Linked DNA regions of Homo sapiens. The protein of the gene in region 3 purifies or fractionates together with the protein of the main gene of each other region. This does not show direct contact. Each region holds a gene or a part of one and is shown on either strand. Other genes may lie near its edges.

Evidence for each region.
Region 1: the proteins of CD83 (region 3) and BMPR1A purify together in Homo sapiens (affinity purification with mass spectrometry; 2 studies listed by BioGRID and IntAct, with this or other methods). This does not show direct contact.
Region 2: the proteins of CD83 (region 3) and SLC30A5 purify together in Homo sapiens (affinity purification with mass spectrometry; 2 studies listed by BioGRID and IntAct, with this or other methods). This does not show direct contact.
Region 4: the proteins of CD83 (region 3) and CD320 purify together in Homo sapiens (affinity purification with mass spectrometry; 2 studies listed by BioGRID and IntAct, with this or other methods). This does not show direct contact.
Region 5: the proteins of CD83 (region 3) and UGCG purify together in Homo sapiens (affinity purification with mass spectrometry; 2 studies listed by BioGRID and IntAct, with this or other methods). This does not show direct contact.
Region 6: the proteins of CD83 (region 3) and ATP7A purify together in Homo sapiens (affinity purification with mass spectrometry; 2 studies listed by BioGRID and IntAct, with this or other methods). This does not show direct contact.
Region 7: the proteins of CD83 (region 3) and DAB2IP purify together in Homo sapiens (affinity purification with mass spectrometry; 2 studies listed by BioGRID and IntAct, with this or other methods). This does not show direct contact.

The regions. Positions count from the first base shown.
Region 1 is NC_000010.11:86,913,157-86,917,514, forward strand, and holds part of BMPR1A (bone morphogenetic protein receptor type-1A isoform 3 precursor), read left to right. Parts: intron 1-3,977; coding exon 3,978-4,170; intron 4,171-4,358. UniProt on the Homo sapiens protein: On ligand binding, forms a receptor complex consisting of two type II and two type I transmembrane serine/threonine kinases.
Region 2 is NC_000005.10:69,121,230-69,125,587, forward strand, and holds part of SLC30A5 (proton-coupled zinc antiporter SLC30A5), read left to right. Parts: intron 1-464; coding exon 465-666; intron 667-1,969; coding exon 1,970-2,196; intron 2,197-4,358. UniProt on the Homo sapiens protein: Together with SLC30A6 forms a functional proton-coupled zinc ion antiporter mediating zinc entry into the lumen of organelles along the secretory pathway.
Region 3 is NC_000006.12:14,134,542-14,138,034, forward strand, and holds the end of CD83 (CD83 antigen isoform a precursor), read left to right. Parts: intron 1-566; coding exon 567-695; 3' UTR 696-2,365; downstream 2,366-3,493. UniProt on the Homo sapiens protein: Transmembrane glycoprotein predominantly found on the surface of many immune cells including dendritic cells or lymphocytes that plays various roles in immune response regulation.
Region 4 is NC_000019.10:8,300,798-8,305,387, reverse strand, and holds the end of CD320 (CD320 antigen isoform 1 precursor), read left to right. Parts: intron 1-231; coding exon 232-357; intron 358-1,299; coding exon 1,300-1,533; intron 1,534-2,407; coding exon 2,408-2,611; intron 2,612-2,782; coding exon 2,783-2,925; 3' UTR 2,926-3,261; downstream 3,262-4,590. UniProt on the Homo sapiens protein: Receptor for transcobalamin saturated with cobalamin (TCbl). Plays an important role in cobalamin uptake. Plasma membrane protein that is expressed on follicular dendritic cells (FDC) and mediates interaction with germinal center B cells.
Region 5 is NC_000009.12:111,899,333-111,903,690, reverse strand, and holds part of UGCG (ceramide glucosyltransferase), read right to left. Parts: intron 1-4,358. UniProt on the Homo sapiens protein: Participates in the initial step of the glucosylceramide-based glycosphingolipid/GSL synthetic pathway at the cytosolic surface of the Golgi.
Region 6 is NC_000023.11:77,913,372-77,917,729, reverse strand, and holds part of ATP7A (copper-transporting ATPase 1), read right to left. Parts: intron 1-4,358. UniProt on the Homo sapiens protein: ATP-driven copper (Cu(+)) ion pump that plays an important role in intracellular copper ion homeostasis.
Region 7 is NC_000009.12:121,765,776-121,770,133, reverse strand, and holds part of DAB2IP (disabled homolog 2-interacting protein), read right to left. Parts: intron 3,641-4,358; coding exon 3,404-3,640; intron 1,703-3,403; coding exon 1,501-1,702; intron 1-1,500. UniProt on the Homo sapiens protein: Functions as a scaffold protein implicated in the regulation of a large spectrum of both general and specialized signaling pathways.

The DNA.
Region 1 (4,358 bases), on a different chromosome or scaffold from region 3:
CTCTGTCACCCAGGCTGGAGTGCAGTGGCCCAGTCTTCGGCTCACTGCAACCCCTGCTTCCCAAGTTCAAGCAATTCCCGTCTCAGCCTCCGAAGTAGCTGGAATTACCAGATGCACCACCACACCAGGCTAATTTTTTTTTTTTTTTTTTTTTGAGGGATGAGGTTTCTCCATGTTGGCCAGGCTGGTCTCAAACTCCTGGCCTCAACTGATCCTTCCACCTTGGCTCCTAAAGTGCTGGGATTACAGGTGTGAACCACCGCACCCACCCTGATCTCTAATTTTGAAATTCATCTTATTAAATAACTCTAATTGAATTGGAAAGGTAAAAGTAAAACTGCCTTCATAGGCAGACAACATGATTGTTTACGTAGAAAATCCCAAGAATGGTACAATAAAACTACTGCAGCCAGTAAATGACTTTATCAGGTTGCAGAATACAGAGTCATTGTACAAATACCATTGAATTTATAGGCTCTAGCAACAAACAATTAGGTAATTATAAAAACAGTATTTAAAATAGCATCAAAAACCATGAAATATTTAGAATAAGCCTAACAATTTATGCAAGACCTGCACACTGAAAATTATAAAACATTGCTGAAAGAAATTAATAAAGCCCTAAATAAGTGGAGATGTTTATAAATCTGAGGACTCAGTATTAAGATTTCAGTTTTCCTCAAATTGGTGTGTAATTTCATTCGAATCCAAATGAAAATCAGAGCAAACTTTTATAGCAATTGATGTATATTCTAACATTTATATGGAAATGCAAAGGACTAGAAGAGCCAAAACAATTTTGAAGTAGAAGAACAAAGAGGAATCACTACCTGATTTCTGGACTTACCGTAAAACTCAATAATGATCTCAATTTGGTACTGGCATAAGGATAGATGTATTGATGAATGGAACAGATTATGGAGTTTAGAAAGGAACATGCACTTAATATGGTTAATTGATTAAAAAAAAAAAAACAAAAAGATGCCCAAGTAATTCAATTGGAAAAAGGCAGTCCATTTAACAGATGGTGCAGGAAATATCAGGAATCCATTTACCAAGAAGTTAATCTCAGTCCTTACCTCCTCACTCTATACCAAATTAACTTGAAATGTAGCATAGACCTAAATGTAAAAGTTGAAGTATAAAACCTCTAAAAGAAAATGTCTGAAAAAATTATTCTGACCTTGGGCAGACTTCTTCAGTACATAAAAAACACAAATCATTTTTTTAATGATAAATCAGGCTTTATCAAAATTTAAAACTTCTGCTATTTAGAAGACAAGAAAATGAGAAGACAAGTCACAGATTGGCAAAACAGATCTGATACAGGGTTTTTGTGCAAAATATATAAAGACCTTTTGCAACTCAATAATAAGATAACCCAATTTTTTTAAAAAATGGACAAAAGATTTGAACAGACACTTCCCCAAAGAAGATATAAGAATGGCAAACAAGCACATGAAAAGATGCTCAGCATCAGCAGGGATATACAAATTAAACACAGTAAGATACTACTGCACATCCACTAGTATAGCTAAGACTGATAATATTAAGTGGTGCCAAAGATGTAGATCAACTAGAAATCTCATACATTGCTGGTTGGAATGCAAAATGGTATGGCTATTTTGAAAAATAGTTTGACAATTGCCTGGAAAGTTAAGGGCATACTTTCCGTACAATGAAGCAATCCTTCTGCTAATTATTTACCCAAGAGATATGAAAACTTGTCCACACCAGAGGCCTGAATGTGAATGTTTATAGCAGTTTTATTTATAATAGACATAAACTGGAAACAACCCCAAAGCTCATGAATTGCTAAATGAATAAACAAATGCTGGTACATTCATACAGTGGAATATTACTCATCAGTAAAAAGGAACAACTTCTAACACATGTAGCAGCAACAGTGGGTGAATTTCAAAAGTACTTTATGCTACATGAAAGAAGCCAGACACAAAAGGCTACACAAAAGTGATTCTCCTGCCTCAGCCTCCCAAGTAGCTGGGATTAAGGCATGCACCACCATGCCCAGCTAATTTTTGTATTTTTTTTTAAGTAGAGACAGGGTTTCACCATGTTGGCCAGGCTGGTCTTGAACTCCTGACCTCAGGTGATCCACCCGCCTCGGCCTCCCAAAGTGTTGGGATTACAGGCGTGAGCCACCACGCCTGGCCAAAAAGTGAGAATTTTTTTACGTTATTAAAATATTCTGTATCTTAATTGTGGTATTGGTGATTACATGATATAGATTTGTCCAAGGCTTGTTGAACTTTTCTCAAAAAGGGTACATTTTATATAAATTATACCTCAATAATCTTGACTTAAAAACTTACAGGCTGAGGCAGGCAGATCACTTGAGGTCAGGTGTTCGAGACCAGTCTGGCCAACATGGTGAAACCCTGTCTCTACTAAAAATACAAAAATTAGCTGGACGTGGTGGCAGATGCCTGTAATCCCAGCTGCTCGGGAGGCTGAGGCAGGAAATTGTTTTAACTGGGGAGGCAGAAGTTGCAGTGAGCTGAGATTGGCCGCCGCACTCCAGCCTGAGCAACGGAGCGAGACTCTGTCTCAAAAAAACAGAACAAAATTTACAAAAGGATTCTATAATAAATGATACATAAAGTCACTTTAGCTTTGCACTAAATCTAGTCCATTTTAGAAGCATTTCCAACTTGGAGCATAATGTTCTTTTTAATTTAGAATGATCACTAATGCTTCTGAAAATGAAAGATAACAATCCATGTACATCTTTTATTTAACAAATATTAAAGTACTTCTGATATTGTCCCAAATAAATACTTATATTCTGTGAGCAGGGGATGGAATTCAAGCAAATATATATGTAAATAAGAATAAAGTTATGATTGTGTTAAGCGCAGCAACTGAGAGGTTTTGTGTGCTATGAAGGTGTTTAAGTGAGAAAATAGCACTCTAAGTAAAGGGAACTGGATATTCAAAAAAACCCAGCGACAGGAATAAGCTTGAGTGAATTCTAAAAGTTGAGATAAGTCAAACGAGGTTTGTGGGTGGGTGGTCAAAGCAAATAATGGGACCAGGCCAGATCAGGCAGGGTCTTATAGATGGGATTTTTAAGATCTTTAACTGTTATTTGGACTTTGCTGCATAATAAACCACCCCAAAACTTAGTGATGTGAAGCAACAAACATTATTTCTCATTCTGTGAGTCTGTGGGGCAGTTCATTTGTTGGACTTGCTTAGCTAGAGCTAGGTGGTGTAGTTCACACCCTTGGCCGACAGTTCATGCTGCCATTATTTTTTGGTCACAGGGTTCCCAAAGCAGCAGGAAGGGGGCAAGCCCCAGTCCACAAACATTTGTCAGGTCTTTGCTTGCATCACGTTCGCTGTTGTTCTTTTATCCAAAGCAAGTCATGTGGCCTAAGCCCTGAGTCTGTGGACCAAGACTACCCACGACTGTGTGCACTGGGAGGGTAATTATTATGACCATTTTTGCAAACAGCCAGCCACTTGAATAACCTGTTTATGATTTCAGAATACATTGTACATTGTTTCATACTTTAAAGTACATTATGGCCGGGCATGGTGGCTCACGCCTGTAATCCCAGCATTATGGGAGGCCGGGGGTGGGGTGGATCACCTGAGGTCAGGAGTTCAAGACCAGCCTGGTCAACGTGGCTAAACCCCATCTCTACTAAAAATACAAAAAAATTAGCTGGGCATGGTGGCGGGTGTCTGTAATCCCAGCTACTTGGGAGGCTGAGGCAGGAGAATCACTTGAATCTAAAAGGTGAAGGTTGCAGTGAGCCGAGATCGCGCCACTGCACTCCATCCTGGGTGACAGAGCGAGACTCCATCTCAAAAAAAAAAAAGTACATTATAAGTTTTTAACTGGAGTTGGTTGGGTACACCATGCTTTTTGATGAGATGGACTACCCCTTTGCCAGTCTTAATGGGTTTCTTTCATCAAGAGCTCAAACCTTTTACTTTTTTCTATAAAGGTTCAGCGAACTATTGCCAAACAGATTCAGATGGTCCGGCAAGTTGGTAAAGGCCGATATGGAGAAGTATGGATGGGCAAATGGCGTGGCGAAAAAGTGGCGGTGAAAGTATTCTTTACCACTGAAGAAGCCAGCTGGTTTCGAGAAACAGAAATCTACCAAACTGTGCTAATGCGCCATGAAAACATACTTGGTGGGTACACACTGATTCAGTCAATTTCATTTTTGACAAGGCTAGTGAGGTACAGGTGGAAGCCTCCATATGTGCTTTGAAAATGTGTGAGTTCAACTATATACATTTGGCTAAAGGAAACCTAGTAGAATACACGGTTTGAATAAAACATAGTCCGGAATGCCAACCAAGATCTTTCTTTACTAACC
Region 2 (4,358 bases), on a different chromosome or scaffold from region 3:
TGTTTAAGACATAATAAGACCATATTTGGAATCTGCTCATTAATAAATTATAATTGTTGGCATATAAACTGTTCAAATTTACCTAGCAATATAAAGATTTCAGGTACAGTGTATACTTGCCCTAGTAAGCAGTACTTTCAAACTCTTCAATAAACAAAACAAAACTTTGCATCATTTATTTATACATAAACCATAAACCAAGTACATACCATTCTTAATTGAAATAAGTCCAAATTCCTCTACTTACCAATTCTGCTTGATATTTGAAAGTTAAAATGTTTCTTCTAAAATGTTCTAAAATTCACATTTTTAAAATTTTGGACTTACTGAAACTTAGTAAGGTTTTACTGTGAATACTTTCAAAACTGTAAACAGAAAAACATATATAGCTATATAATAACTTTTAAATAACAAGTCTATTTTTAAATTACTAATTTAAAGGTTTTTTTTCTCCCTTTTGCTAGCCAGTCTCAGTTGGAGGGCTGATAGTAAACCTTATTGGTATCTGTGCCTTTAGCCATGCCCATAGCCATGCCCATGGAGCTTCTCAAGGAAGCTGTCACTCATCTGATCACAGCCATTCACACCATATGCATGGACACAGTGACCATGGGCATGGTCACAGCCACGGATCTGCGGGTGGAGGCATGAATGCTAACATGAGGGGTGAGTCCTTGCAAAATATTATCCTACTTTTCAACTGTGTTCTAAATCAACCCTCTGTGTTTATTTGTATTAAGTTTTGGGCTTCTGGTATGATATGATTTTTAAAAAGCAATCTGTGACTAAAAGAAAGGTCTGAAGCTATCACTATAGAAAATATTCTTACCTGAATACACATAAAATTAAATATTATTCAGCCTTTAAAAAGAGGGACATTCTGGCTGGGAGCATGGTGGTTCACGCCTGTTAATCCCAGCAATTTGGGAGGCTGAGGCGGGAGTACCACCTGAGGACAGGAGTTCAAGACCAGCCTGGCCAATATGGTGAAACCCTGTGCCTACTAAAAATACAAAAATTAGCCGGACATGGTGGCAGGTGCTTGTAATCCCAGCTACTCAGGAGGCCGAGGCAGAAGAATCGCTTACAGGTGTGAGCCACCATGCCTGGCCGTCACAGAAAATTTTTTAAAAAGAAAATGAGGCTGGGAACAGTGGCTCACATCTGTAATCCTAGCACTTTGGGAGGCCAAGGTGGGTGGATCACCTGAGGTCAGGAGTTCGAGACCAGTCTCTCCAACATGGTGAAACCCTGTCTCTACTAAAAATACATAACTTAGCCAGGTGTGGTGGCAGGCGCCTGTAGTCTCAGCTACTCAGGAGGCTGAGACACGAGAATCACTTGAACCTGGGAGATGGAGGTTGCAGTGAGCCAAGATTACGCCACTTTACTCCAGCCTGGGCAACAGAGTGAGACTCTATCCAAAACAAAAAGAAAATGAAAATATATTTGTTCTTAAATGTTAGTTTTTAAATGATTATAATTATATAGTCCTTTTCATAGTGACAGCTGAATAGATATTAGTTGCAAGGTAAACACAGTGTGCTATTATGAACCTTCATTACAAAAAGGAAATTCTTACTCCTTTTTTAGAAATTTTTATTGCACTATAAAAAAAATGGAGGAAGTACTAATCATTTATTTTGCTGAATTGTTTATTCTGATTGCTTAATATAAGTAATGTGGGTAATGTCAAAACTTGCCTCAAGTATGATTTTTGGGAAGCCTTTCCAGACAAAGTACACCATAAAATTTGGCACGCTGTGTCATGAGTGCCTATGTCCTTATATTTTTACCACTGTATTCTGAATTCCTTGAGGGCAGTGACCATGTTTTAGGCATTTTGAAGTACTAGCCAGTAGCAGAGTATGTGGTGCACAGTAGGTATCCAGTAATATTAGTAGAATGTATTAAAAAACTAAATTAGATGTGCCTTAATTTTTAATGTCCTTATATATTTTATTTGTAGGTGTATTTCTACATGTTTTGGCAGATACACTTGGCAGCATTGGTGTGATCGTATCCACAGTTCTTATAGAGCAGTTTGGATGGTTCATCGCTGACCCACTCTGTTCTCTTTTTATTGCTATATTAATATTTCTCAGTGTTGTTCCACTGATTAAAGATGCCTGCCAGGTTCTACTCCTGAGATTGCCACCAGAATATGAAAAAGAACTACATATTGCTTTAGAAAAGGTACTGTATGTAATTTCTTCACTACTTTCTTCCTTGAAAATCACATTTTTGAAGTCTTTGCTGGAAGTAAAACAGACAACCAAATAAATAATAAAACAAAACGAGGCCAAAAAAGAAATATAAAGTAGCATTTAAAATTTAATAAGTTGACCTAACAAGAAATATGCAAGATATAAATGAGAAAAATACAGTTTTACTTAAAGGATATAAAACAGGGACCGAATAGATGGATGAGATTTTCTTGGATGAGAAGACTCTTTATTATAATGATGTTGATTTTATTTTATTTAGATTTCAATTTAGTTGCCTTCATTGGATATTTTTGTTTATGGTTTGGGATGTTCTAAAATTATTTGGAACTTACTTGGAAGAGTTAGCGCTTGAGAATAAGAAAACATACATAAACTTACAGAATTAATTAATAGGATCCTACTTTGCAATTATAAAGTAGCAGAATTAAGTGACAAAACTAACAGTTTAGATCGAGACCATCCTGGCTAACAAGGTGAAACCCCGTCTCTACTAAAAATACAAAAAATTAGCCGGGCGTGGTGGCGGGCACCTGTAGTCCCAGCTACTCGGGAGGCTGAGGCAGGAGAATGGCGTGAACCCGGGAGGCAGAGCTTGCAGTGAGCCGAGACCACGCCACTACACTTCAGCCTGGGTGACAGAGCGAGACTCCACCTCAAAAAAAAAAAAAAAAAACCTAACAGTTTGGTCCTTGCACAAGAATAAAGACATAAATCAACTTTTAAAAAAATAATAAGTTCCCATTCTTGTGACCTGGGATTGTTTCCTGGACAGCACAAAAAAAAAAATAGTAACAATAATAATAGGTTGTCTGTAAAAGAAGAAATAATAAAAAATGAAAATAAATGAAGAATTATGGTATGTAATGTAAAAGAAGAAATAAAAATAGGTTGTCCAGAAACAGACCCAGGAGTTTATGGAATTCAGTATATAGCAAAGATGGTATTTTAGATCACTGGGGAGAAATAGTTGACCTAAATAACCAGCTTTTGGTTAATTACTTCTTTACTTTGTGGGGAAAAAAAAGCTATATCTCTATACCATATTATATAAAAATACATTTCCAGTGGATTAAATATGTAAATGACAAAAAAATTATGAAACTACTAAATAGAGAAATATTTTTGTTTGTTTGTTTTTTGAGACAGTCTTGCTCTGTTGCCAGGCTGGAGTGGAGGGGCGCAATCCCAGCTCACTGCAACCTCCACCTCCCGGGTTCAAGCGATTCTCCTGCCTCAGCCTCCCAAGTTGCTGGGATTACAGGCCTACCACACCCAGCTAATTTTTGTATTTTAGTAGAGATGGGGTTTCGCCATGTTGGCCAGGCTGGTCTTGAACTCCTGACCTCAAGCTATCCACCCACCTTGGCCTCCCAAAGTGCTGGGATTACAGGTGTGAGCCACTGCACCCCGCCAGAAAAATATGTTTATAATCACAAAGATAGGGAAAGACTTTTTAATATACTTGAAACCAGAGGCCAAAAAGGGAGGATAAAATTTACAAATTTGACCAGTTGAAAATTGCCAGTTGGTGGAAGATTTCATTAACAAGTATAAAACATAAAAGGCAGACCAGGAAAAAACATTTGCAGCACATATAAACAGGCAAAGGTTTACTGTCCATAATTCTTTAAGTCAAGAAAAAGACAATCTTAGCTGTGCATGGTGGCTCATGCCTGTAATCCAGCACTTTGGGAGGCTGAGGTGAGCAGATCACCTGAGGCCAGGAGTTCAAGGTCAGCCTGGCCAACATGGTGAAAGTCCATCTCTACTAAAAATACAAAAATTAGGGTCGGGCACGGTGGCTCACGCCTGTAATCCCAGCACTTTGGGAGGCTGAGGCAGGCAGATCACGAGGTCAGGTGATTGAGACCATCCTGGCTAACATGATGAAACCCCATCTCTACTAAAAATATAAAAAATTAGCCGGGCATGGTGGCGGGCACCTGTAATCCAAGCTACTCAGGAGGCTGAGTCAGTAGAATCGCTTGAACCCAGGAGGTGGAGGTTGCAGTGAGCTGAGATCACGCCATGGCAACAGAGCGAGACTGGCAACAGAGCGAGACTCTGTCCTTCCCCACACACAAAAAAAAAAATTAGGCCTGGCACGGTGGCTCAGGCCTGTAATCCCAG
Region 3 (3,493 bases):
CCAGGACTGGTTCTTGCCACTCACTGTGTCCCTCTATTCACTTACTTGCCTCTCTGGCTGTGCACTCATCTCTCTGGTTTCTATTTTAGATACCAGTCAATCAGAGACTCCAGTGAGCACCTACTATGTTCAAGGCATTATGCTAGGCACTGTACAGGGCATAAAAAGGTGTAAGACATTGTTCCTGCCCTCAAGGAGCTTACAGTTAGGATGTTAGGGTTATTTGCGTATAAGAAGATAATTAGAGTTACCAGGCAGTATGTTTTAAACATGAATGACTTTAGCTTCTTGTTGGAAAATGCCTGCTTCTGTGGGCATTGACTTTCCATACAGAGACCTAACAGTAGGGGGTCGAAATGGCCACAATCAGTGAATCTCCTGGTCCAAGTTTAGAGACGCCAGTGAAATGGTTGGTACAAATCCCTTGTGGAGCGAGTGAGGCAGTGAGTATGAGAGCTTCCAGAATGGGTTGTCTAGCCAGCTCTTAGTGAATAGAGTTTAAAAGGAGGTGACAACTGCTGAATTTTTCCAATTATTCACTTCACATTTCTTTCATTTCTTTTTAGAAGTTTGCACGGCTACAGAGTATCTTCCCAGATTTTTCTAAAGCTGGCATGGAACGAGCTTTTCTCCCAGTTACCTCCCCAAATAAGCATTTAGGGCTAGTGACTCCTCACAAGACAGAACTGGTATGAGCAGGATTTCTGCAGGTTCTTCTTCCTGAAGCTGAGGCTCAGGGGTGTGCCTGTCTGTTACACTGGAGGAGAGAAGAATGAGCCTACGCTGAAGATGGCATCCTGTGAAGTCCTTCACCTCACTGAAAACATCTGGAAGGGGATCCCACCCCATTTTCTGTGGGCAGGCCTCGAAAACCATCACATGACCACATAGCATGAGGCCACTGCTGCTTCTCCATGGCCACCTTTTCAGCGATGTATGCAGCTATCTGGTCAACCTCCTGGACATTTTTTCAGTCATATAAAAGCTATGGTGAGATGCAGCTGGAAAAGGGTCTTGGGAAATATGAATGCCCCCAGCTGGCCCGTGACAGACTCCTGAGGACAGCTGTCCTCTTCTGCATCTTGGGGACATCTCTTTGAATTTTCTGTGTTTTGCTGTACCAGCCCAGATGTTTTACGTCTGGGAGAAATTGACAGATCAAGCTGTGAGACAGTGGGAAATATTTAGCAAATAATTTCCTGGTGTGAAGGTCCTGCTATTACTAAGGAGTAATCTGTGTACAAAGAAATAACAAGTCGATGAACTATTCCCCAGCAGGGTCTTTTCATCTGGGAAAGACATCCATAAAGAAGCAATAAAGAAGAGTGCCACATTTATTTTTATATCTATATGTACTTGTCAAAGAAGGTTTGTGTTTTTCTGCTTTTGAAATCTGTATCTGTAGTGAGATAGCATTGTGAACTGACAGGCAGCCTGGACATAGAGAGGGAGAAGAAGTCAGAGAGGGTGACAAGATAGAGAGCTATTTAATGGCCGGCTGGAAATGCTGGGCTGACGGTGCAGTCTGGGTGCTCGCCCACTTGTCCCACTATCTGGGTGCATGATCTTGAGCAAGTTCCTTCTGGTGTCTGCTTTCTCCATTGTAAACCACAAGGCTGTTGCATGGGCTAATGAAGATCATATACGTGAAAATTATTTGAAAACATATAAAGCACTATACAGATTCGAAACTCCATTGAGTCATTATCCTTGCTATGATGATGGTGTTTTGGGGATGAGAGGGTGCTATCCATTTCTCATGTTTTCCATTGTTTGAAACAAAGAAGGTTACCAAGAAGCCTTTCCTGTAGCCTTCTGTAGGAATTCTTTTGGGGAAGTGAGGAAGCCAGGTCCACGGTCTGTTCTTGAAGCAGTAGCCTAACACACTCCAAGATATGGACACACGGGAGCCGCTGGCAGAAGGGACTTCACGAAGTGTTGCATGGATGTTTTAGCCATTGTTGGCTTTCCCTTATCAAACTTGGGCCCTTCCCTTCTTGGTTTCCAAAGGCATTTTATTGCTTGAGTTATATGTTCACTGTCCCCCTAATATTAGGGAGTAAAACGGATACCAAGTTGATTTAGTGTTTTTACCTCTGTCTTGGCTTTCATGTTATTAAACGTATGCATGTGAAGAAAGGGTGTTTTTCTGTTTTATATTCAACTCATAAGACTTTGGGATAGGAAAAATGAGTAATGGTTACTAGGCTTAATACCTGGGTGATTACATAATCTGTACAATGAACCCCCATGATGTAAGTTTACCTATGTAACAAACCTGCACTTATACCCATGAACTTAAAATGAAAGTTAAAAATAAAAAACATATACAAATAAAAAAATCCCGACTTTGGGATGAGTGCTAGGATGTTGTAAACCAGTTTGAGAATCAGAATCCAAAATGAGAGCTGAAAGATTGGCTGAGTCTTTCTCGGAGGGAGGGCATGCTGGCAGACAGAGCTTTGTAAACAGCATCCTCCTTCCCAGAGATGCTTCTGCTTCCATCCTGGGGCCACGTTGCTACCCAGTACATGAGCAGCTCATACTAACATGCACGGTCATGGGTGGGCGGGATGGAGGGAGGGTTTCTGCTTCAGAAAGATGTGTAACATCAGGGGCTTTGTGCCTGGATTCATGGGTTTCACTCAAGATTCTCAAATAGGTCCCTTCCCCCCAAAATGTTAAGAACGATGTGGTCTAAGTAGTTGTAATAGTTATAAAAGCATCAGGCCAGGCACGGTGACTCATGCCTGTAATCCCAGCACTTTGGGAGGCCGAGGCAGGCGGATAACGAGGTCAGGAGATCGAGACCATCCTGGCTGACACGGTGAAACCCCGTGTCTACTAAAAATACAAAAAATTAGCCGGGCGTGGTGGCGGGTGCCTGTAGTCCCAGCTACTCAGGAGGCTGAGACAGGAGAATGGCATGAACCCTGGAGGCAGAGCTTGCAGTGAGCCGTGATTGTGCCACTGCACTGCAGCCTGGGCGACAGAGCAAGACTCCGTCTCAAAAAAAAAAAAAGCATCATAAGTGGAAGTCTCTTTACAAAGATGAATACACATAAAATGTCTCTAAAAGCTGTGGAATCACTTTCAATGGAATCAAGTCTGTTCTCAAATGCTTTACCAAAAGTGCCAGGGCATGGTAATTGAGAGTTCACAGAGCTCCTAGTCACCTGAGTGTGTAGCCCAGCTTCAAGATTTGGAAGTTATATTTCCTTGGGCAGAGGACTTACCCCTCTAAGCCTTAGCTGGCCAATCTTTAAAATAAGAATAGTATCTGCCTAATAGGTTTATTGTGAGGATTAAATAAGATAATATATAGAAGCAGTAAGCCTAGTGTGTAGCAAAAGGTAAGCCTTTGACTGATATTAGAACAAGAAAGGAGAAAAAGGTAGCAGAGAAAGTATCAGTAACCATAAATCTTTGACAAAGTGGTTTTGTTAAAAGGAATGAATTGGCTTGGTGAAGGAGTCATGCTGCTTTCAGAGGA
Region 4 (4,590 bases), on a different chromosome or scaffold from region 3:
TCTGTAACCTGGGGAGTGCAGTAGCACCTGCCCAGTGGGGCTCTTGAGCCCAGGAACTGCTACACTCTGAACCCCACTCGTACTAGGGGCTCAGTAACAAGCAGCCGCCAGTGTGGTTCCTATATCCCGGGACTTCGCCTGTCTCCTGCGGATCACAGCCAGTGACTACTGTGCTCTTGGAGAAAGGTCCAGCCTCCAGCTTCCCAGGCTTCATTTGCATCCATCTCGCAGGCCCCAGCTCAGGCTCGTGCCCACCCACCAAGTTCCAGTGCCGCACCAGTGGCTTATGCGTGCCCCTCACCTGGCGCTGCGACAGGGACTTGGACTGCAGCGATGGCAGCGATGAGGAGGAGTGCAGTGAGTGGCCACGCCCCTTGGCGGGGCTTACAGGGGGCGGGGCCTGAGGGTGGTTTGTCAGGGGCCAGGCACGCGGAGGTGGAGCTTGTGGGAAAGGCAGGGCCGCAGGGATGGGTGCGACTTGGGTCTGTGGGTCATAAGAAGCGGGGTCTAAGATGGGCTTGGGCTGGGCGCAGTGGCTCACGCCTGCAATCCCAGCACTTTGGGAGGCTAGGGTGGGAGGATCGATCACTTGATCCTGGGAGGTTGCCGCTGCAGTGAGCTAGGATTGTGCCAGTGCACTCCAGCCTGGGCAACAGAGTAAGACTGTCTCAGGAAAAAAAAAGAAAAAGAAAAAAAAAAGAAAAATGAAAGAAAGGAAAGAAAGGAAGGAAAGAGAGAGGGAGGGAGCCAGGTACGGTGGCTCACACATGTAATCCCAGCACTTTGGGAGGCCAAGGCAGGCGGATCACTTGAGGTCAGGCGTTCGAGACCAGCCTGGCCAACACAGTGAAACCCCATCTCTACTAAAAATACAAAAGTTAGCTGGATGTGGCGGCAGGCCCCTGTAATCCCAGCTAGTCAGGAGGCTAAGGCAGGAGAATCACTTGACCCTGGGAGGCAGAGGTTTCAGTGAGTCGAGATTGCGCCACTGCACTGCAGCCTGGGCAGCAAAGGGAGACCCCGTCTCAAAAGAAAAAATAAAGAAAGAAACAAACAAACAAATAGAATAAAGTGGGCTTGTAGGAAGGTAGAGCTAGTGGGGTCTCAGGGGAAGAGCTTGCAGGGAGGCCTGTCCTTAGAAAGTGGAGTTAACAGTTGCAGGGGGCGGAGCCTTAGGAAGGGAGCATTTTTTTGGGCTCAGCTGTTCTTAGAGGGTGGGGCTTGCAGGGGATGGGGTTTCAGGGAGTACCTGGGCCTTCTTGGGTGGGCATTTGGGACCTGACCAACCCTGTGCCCCAGGGATTGAGCCATGTACCCAGAAAGGGCAATGCCCACCGCCCCCTGGCCTCCCCTGCCCCTGCACCGGCGTCAGTGACTGCTCTGGGGGAACTGACAAGAAACTGCGCAACTGCAGCCGCCTGGCCTGCCTAGCAGGCGAGCTCCGTTGCACGCTGAGCGATGACTGCATTCCACTCACGTGGCGCTGCGACGGCCACCCAGACTGTCCCGACTCCAGCGACGAGCTCGGCTGTGGTATGCACCTGCGGGGCTGGGGTGGACTCGTGGGTAGATGGGGACACCCACTGCCTGCTGGGGCGTGGCCAGGCTGGGGGCGTGGACACATGCCTTTGCCCGTGCCTGCATCCCTGTGGGGGAATCAAGACATCATTAGGGGCCGGGCCCGGTGGCTCACGCCTGTAATCCCAGCACTTTGGGAGGCTGAGGTGGGCGGATCATCTGAGGTCAGGATTTCGAGACCTGCCTGGCAAACACTGCGAAACCCCGTCTCTACTAAAAGTACAAAAAAATTTGCTGGGCATGGTGGCACACACCTGTAATCCGAGCTACTCAGGAGGCTGAGTCAGGAGAACCGCTTGAACCTGGGAGGCAGAGGTTGCAGTGAGCTGAGATTGGGCCACTGCACACCAGTCTGGGTGACAGCAAAACTCTGTCTCAAAAAAATTTAAAAAAGGCCGGGCACGGTGGCTAACGCCTGTAATCCTAGCACTTTGGGAGGCCGAGGCAGGCAGATCACCTGAGGTGAGGTGTTCGAGACCAGTCTGGCCAACATGGCGAAATCCTGTCTCTACTAAAAATACAAAAGTTAGCTAGGCGTGGTGGCGTGCACCTGTAATCCCAGCTACTCGGGAGGCTAAGACAGGATAATTGTTTGAACTCAGGAGGCAGAGGTTTCACTGAGCCAATATTGCGCCACTGCACTCCAGCCTGGGTGGCAGAGCCAGACTCCCTCTCCAAAAAAAAAAAAAAAAAAAGACATAATTACGGGCAGTCAGCTTCACCCAGCCTGGTTGGTTGAGGATAAACCCCAAGGGCTCCCCTGGGCATCTGGCCCCCTCACGCCTTCAGTGCTCTCTCCTCAACTACTGAACGCCTGGGCTTATTGCAGGAACCAATGAGATCCTCCCGGAAGGGGATGCCACAACCATGGGGCCCCCTGTGACCCTGGAGAGTGTCACCTCTCTCAGGAATGCCACAACCATGGGGCCCCCTGTGACCCTGGAGAGTGTCCCCTCTGTCGGGAATGCCACATCCTCCTCTGCCGGAGACCAGTCTGGAAGCCCAACTGCCTATGGGGTTATTGCAGCTGCTGGTAAGAGGGACTTACCCTCCCATGCTGGGGGCTTAGAGCTCCGGGGATTCAGGGGAGGTGGGTGGGGAGGGATGAGCTGCAGAACTCCCATCCCCATGTGTATGGAGCTTGGTGGGTGTGGGGGCTCTTGCCTTCCCCCTCCTTACTCCTCTGTCCATCTGTTCCCCACAGCGGTGCTCAGTGCAAGCCTGGTCACCGCCACCCTCCTCCTTTTGTCCTGGCTCCGAGCCCAGGAGCGCCTCCGCCCACTGGGGTTACTGGTGGCCATGAAGGAGTCCCTGCTGCTGTCAGAACAGAAGACCTCGCTGCCCTGAGGACAAGCACTTGCCACCACCGTCACTCAGCCCTGGGCGTAGCCGGACAGGAGGAGAGCAGTGATGCGGATGGGTACCCGGGCACACCAGCCCTCAGAGACCTGAGCTCTTCTGGCCACGTGGAACCTCGAACCCGAGCTCCTGCAGAAGTGGCCCTGGAGATTGAGGGTCCCTGGACACTCCCTATGGAGATCCGGGGAGCTAGGATGGGGAACCTGCCACAGCCAGAACTGAGGGGCTGGCCCCAGGCAGCTCCCAGGGGGTAGAACGGCCCTGTGCTTAAGACACTCCTGCTGCCCCGTCTGAGGGTGGCAATTAAAGTTGCTTCACATCCTCCGCCTGCCTCTGGGTCTCTGTCTCCCTTGGCCTGGGCAGCCTGGGGTCGCTGCTGCAGCCCCTCCTCCATGAGAGCCCAGCCCATAGAAGGTGGGACATGGACACCCAGCCCTGTGTGCAGCTACTGTGCTGCTTGCTTTTTGGGAGCAGGGGCAGCAGGGCTGGGGTGGGGAGTCTGCGTTAACATCAGGATTCTTGGAAGAAGAGCAGAGCTTGGGCAGTGCCTTCCCATTCCCAGGTCTGGGGACCCCCACCCACTGTGGCTTCCTCCTCAGTGCAGTGGAAGCCAGGTTTCCTGGGATGGTCTCAGACTCACCCTGTTTTAATTATTTTTTAATTATGTTTTTAGAGACTGCGTTTTGGCCGGGCACAGTGGCTCACACCTGTAATCCCAGCACTTTGGGAGGCCGAGAGGTGGGCGGATCACCTGAGGTCAGGAGTTCGAGACCAGCCTGGCCAATATGGTGAAACCCTGTCTCTACCAAAAATACAAAAAATTGGTTGGGTGTGGTGGCAGGCGTCTGTAATCCCAGCTACTCGGGAGGCTGAGACAGGAGAATCCCTTGAACCTGGGAGGTGGAAATTGCAGTGAGCTGAGATCACGCCATTGTACTGCAGCCTGGGTGACAGAGTGAGACTCTGTCTCAAAAAAGAAAAAAAAGGTTTTATTATTTATCCTGGGCATCATAGGGATCTCTGCAAATTTTTTTTTTTTTTTTTTTTTTTGAGACAGAGTTTCGTTCTTGTTGCTGGGATTACAGGCATGTGCCACCCCACCTGGCTAATTTTGTATTTTTAGTAGATAAGGGGTTTCTCCATGTTGGTCAGGCTGGTCTTGAACTCCCGACCTCAGGTGATCCGCCCGCCTCGGCCTCCTAAAGTGCTGGGATTACAGGCGTGAACCACTGTGCCTGGCCTATACATTTTTTTTTAACTAGCTGTGGGTGGTGGTGTGCACTTGTAGTCTCAGCTACTTGGGAGGCTGAAGTAGGAGGATTGCTTGAGCCTGGGAGGTCCAGGCTGCAGTGAGCCGTGATCAGGCCACTGCATTCCAGCCTGCGTGTCACAGCAAGACTGTCTCAAAAAACAAACAAAAACAAGTAATGTACTTGAATCATCCTGAAACCATCCCCACCCCTGGTCCGTGGAAAAATTGTCTTCCATGAAACCAGTCCCTGCTGCCAAAAAGGTTGGTGACCGGTAAAGTTAATTCACACCCTGACTTCTGGGTGACAGGGCAAAGTTCCTCCCTTATCCTCAGCTTCTGAATCTCTGAATGGGATGTTGGGGGCCACAGTAGCCTCCTTGCAGGGGAGTGACCTCCCTGGG
Region 5 (4,358 bases), on a different chromosome or scaffold from region 3:
CTGGGAGGTCAAGGCTGTGGTGAGCCATGATCGCACTACTGCACTCCAGCCTGGGTAACAGAGCGAGACCCTATCTCAAAAAGAAAAGAAAAAAAGCCAAGGTGGGAACATTTTTCTTTTTTTTCTGAGGCAGAGTCTTGCTCTGTCACCCACACTGGAGTGCAGTGGCACAATCTTGGCTCACTGCAAGCCCCACCTCCTGGGTTCAAGCGATTCTCCTGTCTCTGCCTCCCAAGTAGCTGGGATTACAGGCGCCTGCCACCACACCCAGCTAATTTTTGTATTTTTAGTAGAGATGGGGTTTTGCCACGTTGGTCAGGCTGGTCTTGAACTCCTGACCTCAGGTGATCTGCCTGCCTCGGCCTCCCAAAGTGCTGGGATTACAGGCGTGAGCCACCACGCCCTGTCTGTCTCATTTTTAAATAACTTCTTTTACAGTTCTGTTTTCAAATTTGGCTTTTGCAAGAGGGAAGCCTGGGATGCAGGGAAACCCACTGGAGACAGGTAAAGGTTAAACAAGGAGGGTGGGCTCCTTCCCCTTCAGATGGCGGGAAGCAGCCTCTGCAGCAACCTTAATACAGCTCCTCACAAGTGAGGCACAAGAATTTCACTCGGCTGGGTACAGTGGCTCATGCCTGTAATCCCAGCACTTTGCTGGGCTGAGATGGGGGAATCACTTGAGGCCAGGAGTTCAAGACCAGACTGGCCAACATCATGAAACCCCACCTCTACTGAAAGTACAAAAATTAGCGGGGTGTGGTGGCACGTGCTTGTAGTCTCAGCTGCTTGGGAGGCTGAGGCACAAGAATCACTCAAACCCAGAAGGCGGAGGTTGCAGTAAGCCGAGATCGCACCACTGCCATCCAGCCTGGGCAACAGAATGAGACTCTGTCTCAAAAAAAAAAAAAGAGAGAATTTCACTCTAGGTTTCTAAGGAAGAATATGAATTCCACAAGGGCAAAAGTTCACCTTGCTTAACAACCCCAGAATGTGTTGTTTTTATAATTCCGCTGTGTGGTTCTGCTGAACCAATTTATCTGACTCTAGGAATTTATCTTCCCTGCTCCAAGTCACAAAGCTTGTTAGTATTTCGTGTAAAATTAGGTTCACTGCTATATCAGCAAGTCCCTAACTTCACATAGTCCATGCCAGCAATTTCCAGTGACTAATGACCTTTGTTATTGTTATCACTCATGACTATATTACTGTTTGTTTATAATCAGTATATCATGACCAATTTACTACCTGTATCACTTATTTCAAAAATGGTATTGCTTCAAAATGGGCTTCATAAGCAATATAAAGCACACCTTCTTGTGCAAGCTTAACCTTGCTAACACAAATTCTCTCACAGAAGGTAAAATAACCAATAGTGAGTTAGCTCTATAGGAAAACACAAACTCTGCCCACTGGACAATGGGCTTACTACACTATAGAATGTAGAAGATTCCACCACCATAGAAAACAAATAGGAGATGGCTGGGTGCCATAAGGGGCACCTAACCCAATAAGGAACTAAAGTCTAAAATGACTTGAACGAGTAGGAGTTAATTAAGCAAGATTTTTGGAAGGAAAGAAGGAAGAGAAAGAAAAAAGAAAGAAAGTAAAGACAATTCCAAAGAAAGCACATTGTACATTTGGGGAAATGCCAGTAATACAACGTTGCTGGTTCAGCTCCTACAGAGCTGTGCTTGTCTCATTAAGGAGTTTGAACTGTAACCCGGAGGCAATGAGGATTCATGGTAAGATTTTAAGCTACTGTGATCCAAGATTAGTAATCCAGAAGGATAAAGGCTACAATAAGAAATATAAAATCGAGGGGGCACAAGGCTGCAGCTAGAGATACCAGCGAGTAGACATAGCTTCAACATCTAGGATAGATATGAAGGTGTGCTGAACTAACTAATGTCAGAGAGAAAGGCAGGGATAATGAATCAATAGAACCATCACTGAATACTAAAATCTTGCAATTTCCACTTTGCTCTTTTTCTTTTCTTCAACTTTTAAGTTCAGGGGTACATGTGCAGGATGTGCAGGTTTGTTACGTAGGTAAACATGTGCCATGGTGGTTTGCTGCCCAGGTCATCCCATCACCGAGGTATTAAGCCCAGTATCTATTAACTATTCTTCTTGATGCTCTCCCTCCCCACACTGCCCCTCACTTTGTTCTTTAAAGCTATCACACTATAGTCTAATTCCGTATCTTCCCAGGCTCAGGTTAAAGGGGCTGAATTGCTGGACTGCCTTATTCATTTCCCTGAAAGTAGCCCTGTAGCAATGATCCTGACTGATGAACGTTTGACCACAGTCCAAGGGCATTGGCAGGACTAAACCCAAAAAAGACGTTCTCAATTTACATTCCACTAAGGCTTGGAACACCAAGTATTCATGAATTTAAGGCAAAGATCGTACTAACTAAAAATAATATCCCAAATGCTAAAATTTACATGAAAAACATAACCAGTTTTTGACGGGTAGTTTATCGCAGTTATCCTGACACAATGAGTATGCAAATTCCATTCAAAAACTGTGCATCAGGTATTGAAGTTGCTGTACATTAGAGATAGCATATTTGGGTTGGGCGCAGTGGCTCACGCCCGTAATCCCAGAACTTCAGGAGGCCAAGGTGGGGGGATCACTTGAGCCCAGGAGTTTGAGACCAGCCTGGGTGACAAAAATTAGCTGGGCGTGATGGCATGCACCGGTAGTCCCAGCTACTTGGGAGGCTGAGGTGGGAGAATTGCTCGAGCCTGGGATGTGAAGCCGTGATCGAGCCACTGCATTCCAGCCTGGGCAACAGAGAGGACTGTCTCAAAAAAATAACAATAAACAAAATAAAGGAAATACGTTTGTAGAAAGCAGAATTAACTTTAAAAAAAACTTAAAAAATCTCCAGGGGGCCAGGCATGATGGCTCACACCTGTAATCCCAGCACTTTGGGAGCCAAGACAGGTAGATCACTTAAGTCCAGGAGTTCAAGACCAGCCTGGGAAACATGGCAGAACCCTGTCTCTACAAAAAGCACAAAAATTAGCCAGGCATGCCTGTAGTCCCAGCTACTTGGGAGCTACTTAGGAAGCTGAAGCAGGAGAATCATTTCAGCCTGGGATGCGGTGGTTGCAGTCAGCCAAGATCGTGCCATTGCACTCCAGCCTAAGCAACAGAGCAAGACCCTGTATCAAAGAAAGAATACACACACACACACACACACACATATACATATACACCTCCAGGTAAAAAAGGACCTCTGTTTTACTTGAGGGTAGCTAATATTTAAGGACACATAAATTATTTCCACACTAGCCTAGCACCTCCAGTCGAAAGATAAAGCCTGATGATAAACATTAGGACCTTATGTACACAGGGAAATAATAATAATATGAGGTGGATGGGATAGGGAAGAGAGCATGAAGCAAGGTTTCTGCTTAGATCACTTCATCACGCAGCAACGTGGCTCCCAAGGGCTAGAAGAGAAACACTACCATCAGGTCTAGGCTTTTATACAATTTCACCTTAGGCCCCAACCTATCAAGCCACACTAGCACTTACCATTAAAAAAAAAAAAAAAAATTAACCCATAAAGGCTATTTAACTTGCCAAGGCTATACTCTTTAGTTATTTTTAGGAAATCTTCAATCTCAACAATAAGACTCTTGAATTTGAAATGTCTCTAATCTGAATGTTACCTTTGACATTGTTGGCAGAAATCCTACAAACATCTGCCATCTAAAATAGGTTAAGAAAGGGCAATAGAAGCTTTGAAACATACCCAAGTATAAAGCAGAATTTAGTTTATAATAAAAATATTTCAAAACAGTGGAATAATCAAATAATCATCTGATAAGTAATTCTGGACAAGTCTCTAAATATTTAGAAGAAACTATAATTAGGGCTCTAGCTCTCATATAACGAAGTAAAATACTGGGTGAATTCAGGGTAATATGTGAAAAAATTAAGAAAAAAATACTAAGAGGAAGCAGAGACTAACATATATAATAATTTGGAGGAATAAGGAAGATATAAAAATTATAACAGAGTTAGAAAATGTAAAAGAAACGGAAAGACCTATCTACCTAAAACACACATGCACACACACTTTTCTCCATGTCAAATATATGTACAAAGTTAAAAGACAAAAAACAGACTGGGGAAAAGAATGCTACATGTGACAGAAAACAACCTTTATATCAGAAAGATGAATTCAGCAACAGATTGCAGCACAGGCAAAGGATTATGAGTATGTAATTTACATCTAAATGTAACTAGCATATAAACATATTTTAAAAGTGCTCAATGTAACTTTAAAGGAATGAAAATAGAAACAGAAAACAGTGAAATGCCTGCTACTTAGTGTTTGT
Region 6 (4,358 bases), on a different chromosome or scaffold from region 3:
GCAGTTTAGTTTCTCTTTCTCATATTTAGACAAGGAAAACACACTACCATTAAACGCAACTAGAAACAAAAGACAGGCAAATGTATTGTTTTGCTTGAAGACATTTCTGATGACATTCTACCAACTATCACAGAATGTATTTATTTCTCTTTCCTTTACTAACCTCCTTTTATTTCTCCCAACCTTTCCTTGGACTTCCTACTGGCACTTCATGTGTACATTGCTTAACTGATACAAGGGTTACTGACCCCAACCACTCTGTAAATATCAGTTTGTTGCCTATAGAGTTGTGTCACTGAGAAAACTTACTATAAAATTCTAAACTTAAACAAATTAGAGTAGAGATGAGATCAAACCAAGGCAGTATGACCCCAAAGCCCCAAACCCTCTCCAGAACAGTGTATCCAAAGGACTTTTAGACAGACTTAAATAGTTCTTCAAAGCATTCAAAAGATGGTCTGCATCTATCACTTGCAGTGCTCCTCCCCAACATAAAATCTCTACTACAATCAAGCAAGTCCCTTCACTGATTGCCATATAGTCCATGCTCTTATCATTTATTTCTATGACTTTGTTTAGAACTGGTCCCCTCACCTAGAATGTTTTCTTGCACATATTTAAGTTCTATTACTTCACTAGTCTGTAAACTCCACAGAAACAGGACCATATCTGCTCTGTTCACTATCATACCACCAGTGAACATGGTGGCTACTCAATAAATCACTGTTGAGTAAGTAAATGAACTGAAGTCCCACCTCCTTCATGAAAAATCATGTCAAATACTCCTAGCCACTTTCTTTTTAAATTCCGAATACCCTGGAATCAGTTTCATAGTTTAGTAGTACCTAATTTCTCTCTGCTTGGTATTAAACTTCTTTCTCTTGCTAGACATTGGAACATATGCCTTATGCTTCTTTGTATAGCTCACAGGAAACACTGAATATGCAATAAGCACACAATAAAAATGTACTAATCAAAGTGCTGACATGCTTTGTAAAAATTCAATTTACACACAACTTTGTAAGAATGCAGCTATTTGCAGAGTAGGTTAGACATACATAAGGCCTTTTCCCTTGCTTACACTGTATCACAACTTATTCAGTACAAGTATGGTTCAGCATTTGACAATTAGGGAATGTGGAAAATCTCGATGGCCTAGAGTCTGTGGCTCACTAATTACAGAAGCAGATTGTTATGAGTTTTCTTGATAGGGAAATAGGATGAGCACATCACAGTGATTTGATTTGCCAGCTGTAATAATGAGCTTTAAGATGCCATGTTAGCATATGTAGGTGTACTATAGGCTACTGGGGGACCCTCTCAATCTGAGTTTTCCATTTTCTTTCTCTTTTTTTTTCTTTTTTTTTTTTTTTTTGAGACAGGGTCTCACTCTGTCACCCAGGCTGGACTGCAGTGGCATGATCTCAGCTCATTGCAGCCTCAACCTCCCAGGCTCAAGCAATTCCCCCACTTTAGCCTCCCCAGTAGCTGGGACTATAGGCGCATGCCACCACACCTGGCTATTTTTTGTAATTTTTGTAGAGATGGGGTTTCACCTTGTTGCCCAGGCTGGTCTGGAACTCCTGAATTCAAGCAATCTACCCACCTCAGCCTCCCAAAGTGCTGAGATTACAGGCGTGAGCCACCGCACCGGCCAATTTTCTATGGTGTAAGTTAGAAATTAAGTATTGTGCCGGGCGTGGTGGCAGGGCCGGGAGCGGTAGCTCAAACCTGTAATCCCAGCACTTTGGGAGGCTGAAGCGGACAGATCACCTGAGGCCAGGAGTTTGAGACCAGGCTGGCCAACATGGCGAAACCCCATCTCTACTAAAAATAAATAAATTAGCCGGGTGTGGTGGCACACGCCTGTAACCCCATCTACTCGGGGGGCTGAGGCATGAGAATCGCTTGAACCCTGGAGGCAGAGGTTGCAGTGAGCCGAGATCGTGCCATTGCAACTCCAGCCTGGGCTACGGAGCAAGACCCTGTCTCCAAAAAAAATTTTTTTAAAGAATTTAAATATTGCTTGCAAGTATTGATTGATTAGTATATTGATCCTGTAGTCTACTAAATTTATAGTACAGCAAAACTGTAATTTATAATTTTATTATATAGGATGTTAAAATTACTTTTACAGTAAATAATATATTAAAATATTAAAGGTAACTACATTTTATTGTATGTTTACTATCTGCCAGACACCGTACATGTATTAGATCATTAACAATCCTGTGAGACAGGTACTGTTATTGTCCCCATTTTAGAAATTTGAAGGAACTGAGGCACAGAGGAGTATGAAATCTGCGCAGGGTCATACAAGTAGTAAGCAGAGGGGCTGGGATCCCACCTAGACAGTCTAGCACCTGGACTGAGCCAGACAAGACAGGCTTTTTTTTTTTTTCCGGACAAGACAGGGTCTCACTCTGTCACTCTCTCATCCAGGGTGGAGTGCAGTGGTGTGATCTCAGCTCACTGCAGCCTCAACCTTCCAGGCTCAAGCGATCCTTCCACCTCAGCCTCCTGAGTAGCTGGGACTACAGGCACGTGCCAACACACTCAGCTAATTTTTGTATTTTTTGTAGAGACAGGGTTTCCCTATGTTGCCCAGGCTGGTCTCGAACGCCTGGGCTCAAGCAATCCGCCTGCCACGGCCTCCCAAAGTGCTGGGATTACAGGCGTGAGCAACTGTGCCCCACCTAGCCTCCACTCTTAATCCTATATTATACTGTCTCTCCAAAACAATATATCGCAATACAATGGTGAAGTTAAGATACCTTGAAGCATCAAGAGAATAATATCTAATACTCCAGAAAATGTTCAAAGATATTACTGTCAAGATGAAAAAACAAACATAGACCATTTCACTCCAGCCTAGGTGACAGAGCCAGACTCCATCTCAAAAATAAATAAACAAAAATAAACATTAGGTGTTTTAGTATATCTAAATATACATTTAGTATATCTTTTCTTTCTAGGAGAATCTGAGAATACAATTAAGACACCATTTTTAACACTAGGTGTTTTAAGGCCTGGCACAGTGGCTCATGCCTGTAATCCCAGCACTTTGGGAGGCTGAGGAGGGTGGATCACTTGAGGTCAGTCAGGAGTTCGATACCAGCCTGACCAACATGGCAAAACCCCTTCTCTACCAAAAATACAAAAACTAACCAAGTGTGGTGGCGCGCACCTGTAATCCCCGCTACTTGGGAGACTGAAGCAAGAGAATCACTAGAACCCAGGAGGCGGAGGTTGCAGTGAGCCGAGATAGCACCACTGCACAGCACGATGCTGTCTCTACAAAAAGTTTAAAAATTAGCTGGGAGTGGTGGCACACACCTATAGTCCCAGCTACTCAGGAGGCTGAGGTAGGAGGATCGCTTGAGCCTGGGAGATCGAGACTGCAGTGAGTTATGATGGCGCCACTGCACTCCAGCCTGGGTGACAGAGCAAGACCCCATCTCTTAAAAATAATATTATTTAAAAAATAATAATTAATTAATAAATAAGTAGCTAGGCATGGTGGCATGCGCCTGTGGTTCCAGCTACTTGAGAGGCCAGAGGATCATTTGAGCCCAGGAGATTAAGGCTGCAGTGAGCTATGATTGTGCCATGGCACCCTAGCCTGGGCCACAGAGCGAGGCCCTGCCTCTAGAAATAAATACATAGATAAATAATAACAATAACATCTTTTAAAATAAAAATAAAATAAAATAAGGTTAATGGCCAGTCTAAAACAATATCCCTACAATGTGAAATAACCCATTTATTTCAACTGGTAAATTGTTAAAAATGCACTCCTGATTATAGGTCTGAAAAACTGGACTTCTACACTAGAGATTAATAGTAAAAATAAGTAAAACTCTTTTTTCATCCTTGAGACATAGCTGTATAATTTTAAATGTGAACAGAAAATATGGTACAAAGTACACATAACTGACTCAAAATGGGGTATTTTACCCTCATTTCCTTCAAGGAAAGAGGTATCTGTGAAAACTGATGTAGTCTACCAATATCTCATACATTTGGGCACAAAAAGATTAGGAAATCACTTCAATTTGCAAACAGTGCTGGAAAAAGTAAGAACATTTTATAAAATCAGAAACACAGGACCCTTTTACTTTAATGAAACACATTCTAAAGGAATTTTGATATTTTTCCTGCCAAACTATCTCAGCAAGTTAAGTAAGCAAGTAATATCACATTAAATCAACCTGAAGACTGAGATTTAAGAGGGAAAAACATGATTGCTGGGATGGTAGAGTGAACTAAAATACTCTGCCTAACCATTGCCTATCACTCATCTGTCCCCCAGCCTCCCCCTTGCCCCGGCCCCATGTTGAGCTATATCCTAAGAAATA
Region 7 (4,358 bases), on a different chromosome or scaffold from region 3:
CTTGGCACCTGAGCCCCAGTGGAGATGGTCCAAGCACACTGCAGGCACCCTCAGGTGCTGGTCAGGCAGAAGGCAGTGCCTGAACCCATCTGAACCTTGCTGGCACGCTTTAGAGAACTTAAGGGGCAGAGGATTCTAGGCTTTGGGGACACTGCCTTCACCTGTTTATGCACAAGCTTCCACAGAGGTCTCTGTGAGAAAACAAAGTGTGAAAACTCATGCAGGCAATAGAGCACGCAATTGAGAGGCAAACAGTTGAGTTTCAAATCCCTGTTGCACCCTATCACCGATGTGACAATACTGATCACCTTCCATTCTTCCTGCCTGGTTGTGCAGATACGTGGACAGCACAGGGGAAAGGTAAGTGGTGGCAGTGACAGTGACTAGTGTTGGCTGCAGTGCAGGGACTGGAACAGGTGGAATGTAGGGTCTCAGCCCTCATTTCCATTTCTCCCTCCTGTGTCTCTCACAGCCAAAGGCAAGTGGATACAAATGAGCAAAAATGATGGCCTTTGATTGCAACAGGACCTATTTCTAGTGAAAAGTCAGGACTAACCTAAGTGTCCATCAATAGGGGACTGGTGAAATAAATAGCATTCATACAATGCAGTCATTAAAAAGTCCCTGGGGGTGGTGGAGATTGCACTGACAAGCAAAGAGGCCCACAACACAGTGGTAAGAAATGCACACAGCAGCATACACAGTATGTTCTTGCTTTAAAACAAACTGAAGAAGGAAAAGAGCTCTATGTGTGTGCGCCTGCATGTGTGTGTGCGCTTACACATGCACAGATCGTGTCCAGAAGGCTGCATACCAGTGCTCTGAGCGGTCACCTCTAGGGAATGGGACCAGGAGGCATGAAGGGCCTTCCAGGCCAGTTTCAGCACCTTACAAAAGTAAGGTGGTCCCTTGGAGCCCTAGAAAGCAACAGATATTCGGGAAGTAGTTCCTGGTAGACCCAGCCCTTAAGTCCAAGAACTAGTTGCTCACTGTGTGGGCTGAGGCTGGGGGTCAGTGAAGTCTCGGGCTAGGGAGGGCTCACTTCAGGTGACTGCAGCAGTGTCAGAGGTGTCTAGGGAGTAACCTTGTCAACTGATGGTCAAGGGCAATCCTAGAAAGGTTTTCGACTTCCTGCTGGACAAGTGGAGGTACAGGGTCTTGAGTCATCTTCTTCATACAGGCGGATTCACGATCCAATTCTATTTCTCACATGCTCTGGCAGGCAGCACAGTGGCGCTTGTCCACTAAAGGCTGAGTGCATGCGGAACACCCCAGCTCTAGTACCCAGAGTGGGGCAGCCTTGGCAGATACTGCTGAGTGAACATAGCATTTGCCCACAGAGAAAATGGGGCCCACAGATCCCCAGTGTGTTCTGACAGGACCTGGCCTGATCATGCCACTTGGGCAAACTCTCTGCCCTCCATGGTTACTCTGGAAGGGGGAACACTAAAAGCCTGATGGCAGCTTTTGGCCCCACCTCCGCCCCACGGCAACAGGCACCTGCTCCAGCTGGCTGACGGCCTCCCAGAGCAGTGAGTGCAGGCTGGAGAGCTCGCGGCCCAGGTCGATGTAGCCCTCGAAGCCGGCTGTATTGGAGAGGGTCTCGGGGTTGGAGATCTCCAGCAGGAAGCGCTGCATGTTGGTCCACTCATGCTCTAGGAACTGGTTCATGAAGGACATGTATTCCTCCTTGCTGCCAAATCTGGAGAGAGGGCAGTTGGGTGAGCACTACTGGGCCCAGGCAGGCCCTGCCCAGGAACTCCCTCCACTGGGACACCACCACCCGCTTTCCCCACTATGGCAGGCTCCCACTCCATTCACTCCCCAAGTCAGCTGAATATGCTCTGACCCAGGTCACCAGGGCCCTCCTTGCTCATGGTAAGTCCAGCGATCCTTTTCTGAACCTTTTATCTCAGGACCTGGAATGTTCTGTGTCCCCCATACACTGCCTGTTAACAGTGTCCTTCGGCTTTTCCTCCAAGTTTCACTGCCCTGGTATGCAGATGATGCTCAATCCCTGCTCAACCCAGGTCTCCCAATGAGCTTTCAGGCATGTATTAATATATCTGCAGGCACCACCCCTGGGAGTCCCTCCTACTCAGCCTGCCACACCTGAAGTCATCATCAACACCCAAACCCATGCCCTCCTCCTGAGCTCCCTACCCTAAGTGGAGACCCCACTACCCATACAGATACACCTGAGACAGAATCTCTGGCAGCTGTCAACTCCTCCCTCTTCCTCATTCCCAAATGGCACGGCCCACTGATTTTGCCTTCTAATCACCCCTAACCTTGTCCCTTGCAGCCACTGCCTCCTGTACCCGCTCCCCTCCCTGCGAATTTTCTGCTATTGTTGCTGGAACCACAGCTATGCTCTCCTTTCACGTCTCCTGGCTACCATCCTGCTCCCTCCAACCCATCTGCCCACTGCTGTCAGGGTGAGCTTTTCAGGATCCAGAACAGAGGAAGGCCATCCTCTCCCTTGTTTAAAACCCTCTGGTGGCTCCCACAGCCCTGTCTGGCCTTCAGGTCCCTGCTGTCCTCTTAGGTCTCATCGCCCGCTTCTCCTGACCTGGCACAGTGCATGGCCCTCCCTGGGATGCCCAGCCTCTGCTCCTCTTGAGACAATGAACGCCTCACCCTGACATGCAGTTGGGGGATCATGTCACCCTGGAGGCTTTCCTGTCTCCTCTCCCAACAAGCTGAGAGCCCTCCTAAGAGGCTCGTGTGTGTCTATCACTGCTCTCCTGCTCATTCCACACGTCTCCCTGGCTGAAGTGCTGAGCGCCACCAGGACTGATTCATCTTGGTGCCGTCAGAGCCCAGCACACAGATGGCCCCAGGATGGGGCTCAATCTATGTTTTGAGAATGAACAACAGTGAGACGACCCAGCCCTTCTACTTCTGCCCACTTGCTCTAAGGATGCAGCCAAAAACACCAATAGTGCTTTATCAGCAAAGACATCCTGATAGCCTGACACCAGGATGGTGGTGCCCAACCCAAGTGCCCAAGCACAGGGAATGGATTAAGGAAATATGGGCCAGTCCCCCTTGGAGGAATATTAGTCATTTATTTCAAAACAGGGCTTAATGAATGTTAAGGGATATGTGAGAATCCTTATAATAATACATTAATTCAAAAAAGCAGAAGGAAAAAAATGTCTCATGTCGTCACCTTTAAAAATTAAGAAACATACCAAAATGACATATACCTTGAGTAGAAGGACAGGGTGTGGAGATTTTATTTTTTAAAAAGCGGGAAGGAGAAGGACTGAGGATGACAGGGACAAAACCAGGGCCTGTTTATGGTCTCTGCTCAGCTTGGGGGCAGAAACACCCCCAGGGCCTGCCCTGTGGACACCAGCCCTGCCCAACTCTGCCTGGTGAGGGAGGAGGCACTCACTTGGCAAAGTTGGCCAGGTTCTGGGTGACCTTGGCGATGAGGGTGAGGGTGCGGGCAGTGCGGTCATCAGGGTACTCCTGCAGCAGGTTGAAGAGTGAGGGCGACATGATGGCTGGGCAGAGGAAGCGCAGGAAGAGGGAGGCGCTGATGAGCCGCTCACTGATGTCCGGGCGGCCGCGACTGCTGCACTCCTGCCTCCACGAGGCAAACACCTCTTTCAACTCCCGTGGGAAGACACTGTGTAGGGACAGACAAAGGTGGGCTTGGCTGTCAGGCAGGGGCCCAGGACAGGAGTGCACAGAGCAGGAACCTGCATTCCAACCTTGGCTCTACCCCGCCAGCTGCGTGAGGTCAGCCCCGCTGTCTGAGCTCTGAGGACACAGCCATCTGGGGAGAGCAGTCAATACAGGGTGGCTGGAGCAAGTGCCCAGGCAGGAGGAGGAGCAGGGAGACCCAGGCTCCCATCGGGCAGTGGGTTCTCAGTGAAGGGCCGGGCAGGTGGGATGGGAGGAGGCATGAGGAGCTGGCTCTCCGTCCTAACCGGAATTAACTGCCAAGGGCCAGTGCTGAACCACCTCTCCAGCTTCTGGTCTGGGCCCTCCCCACCTCTCTGCCAGTGTCTACTTCATTTTTCAACCCAAACAGCAGGCATCTGGGTCTAGGGGGAAGTGAGGAAAACAGGAATAGACCACTATTCCTTGGGTTCCCATCACTGGCTTTGAGACTAATTTCCTTTGCTTGAATAATGTCACAGGAATCCAGGATTTCCTAAAAGCTCAGAAAGATCAAGAAGATGGGACTACCCCTGAACACGGTGGGACAACACAGCTCTCCATTCTCTACATGGGGAGGGAAAGGGAGGTAGTGACTGCCCCAGGGTGATGGAGCAAGCCGGCAGAGCTGGCCCTAGACAATGGGGCTCCTGGTTCCACTGGGCATCCTGGCCTGCCATGGT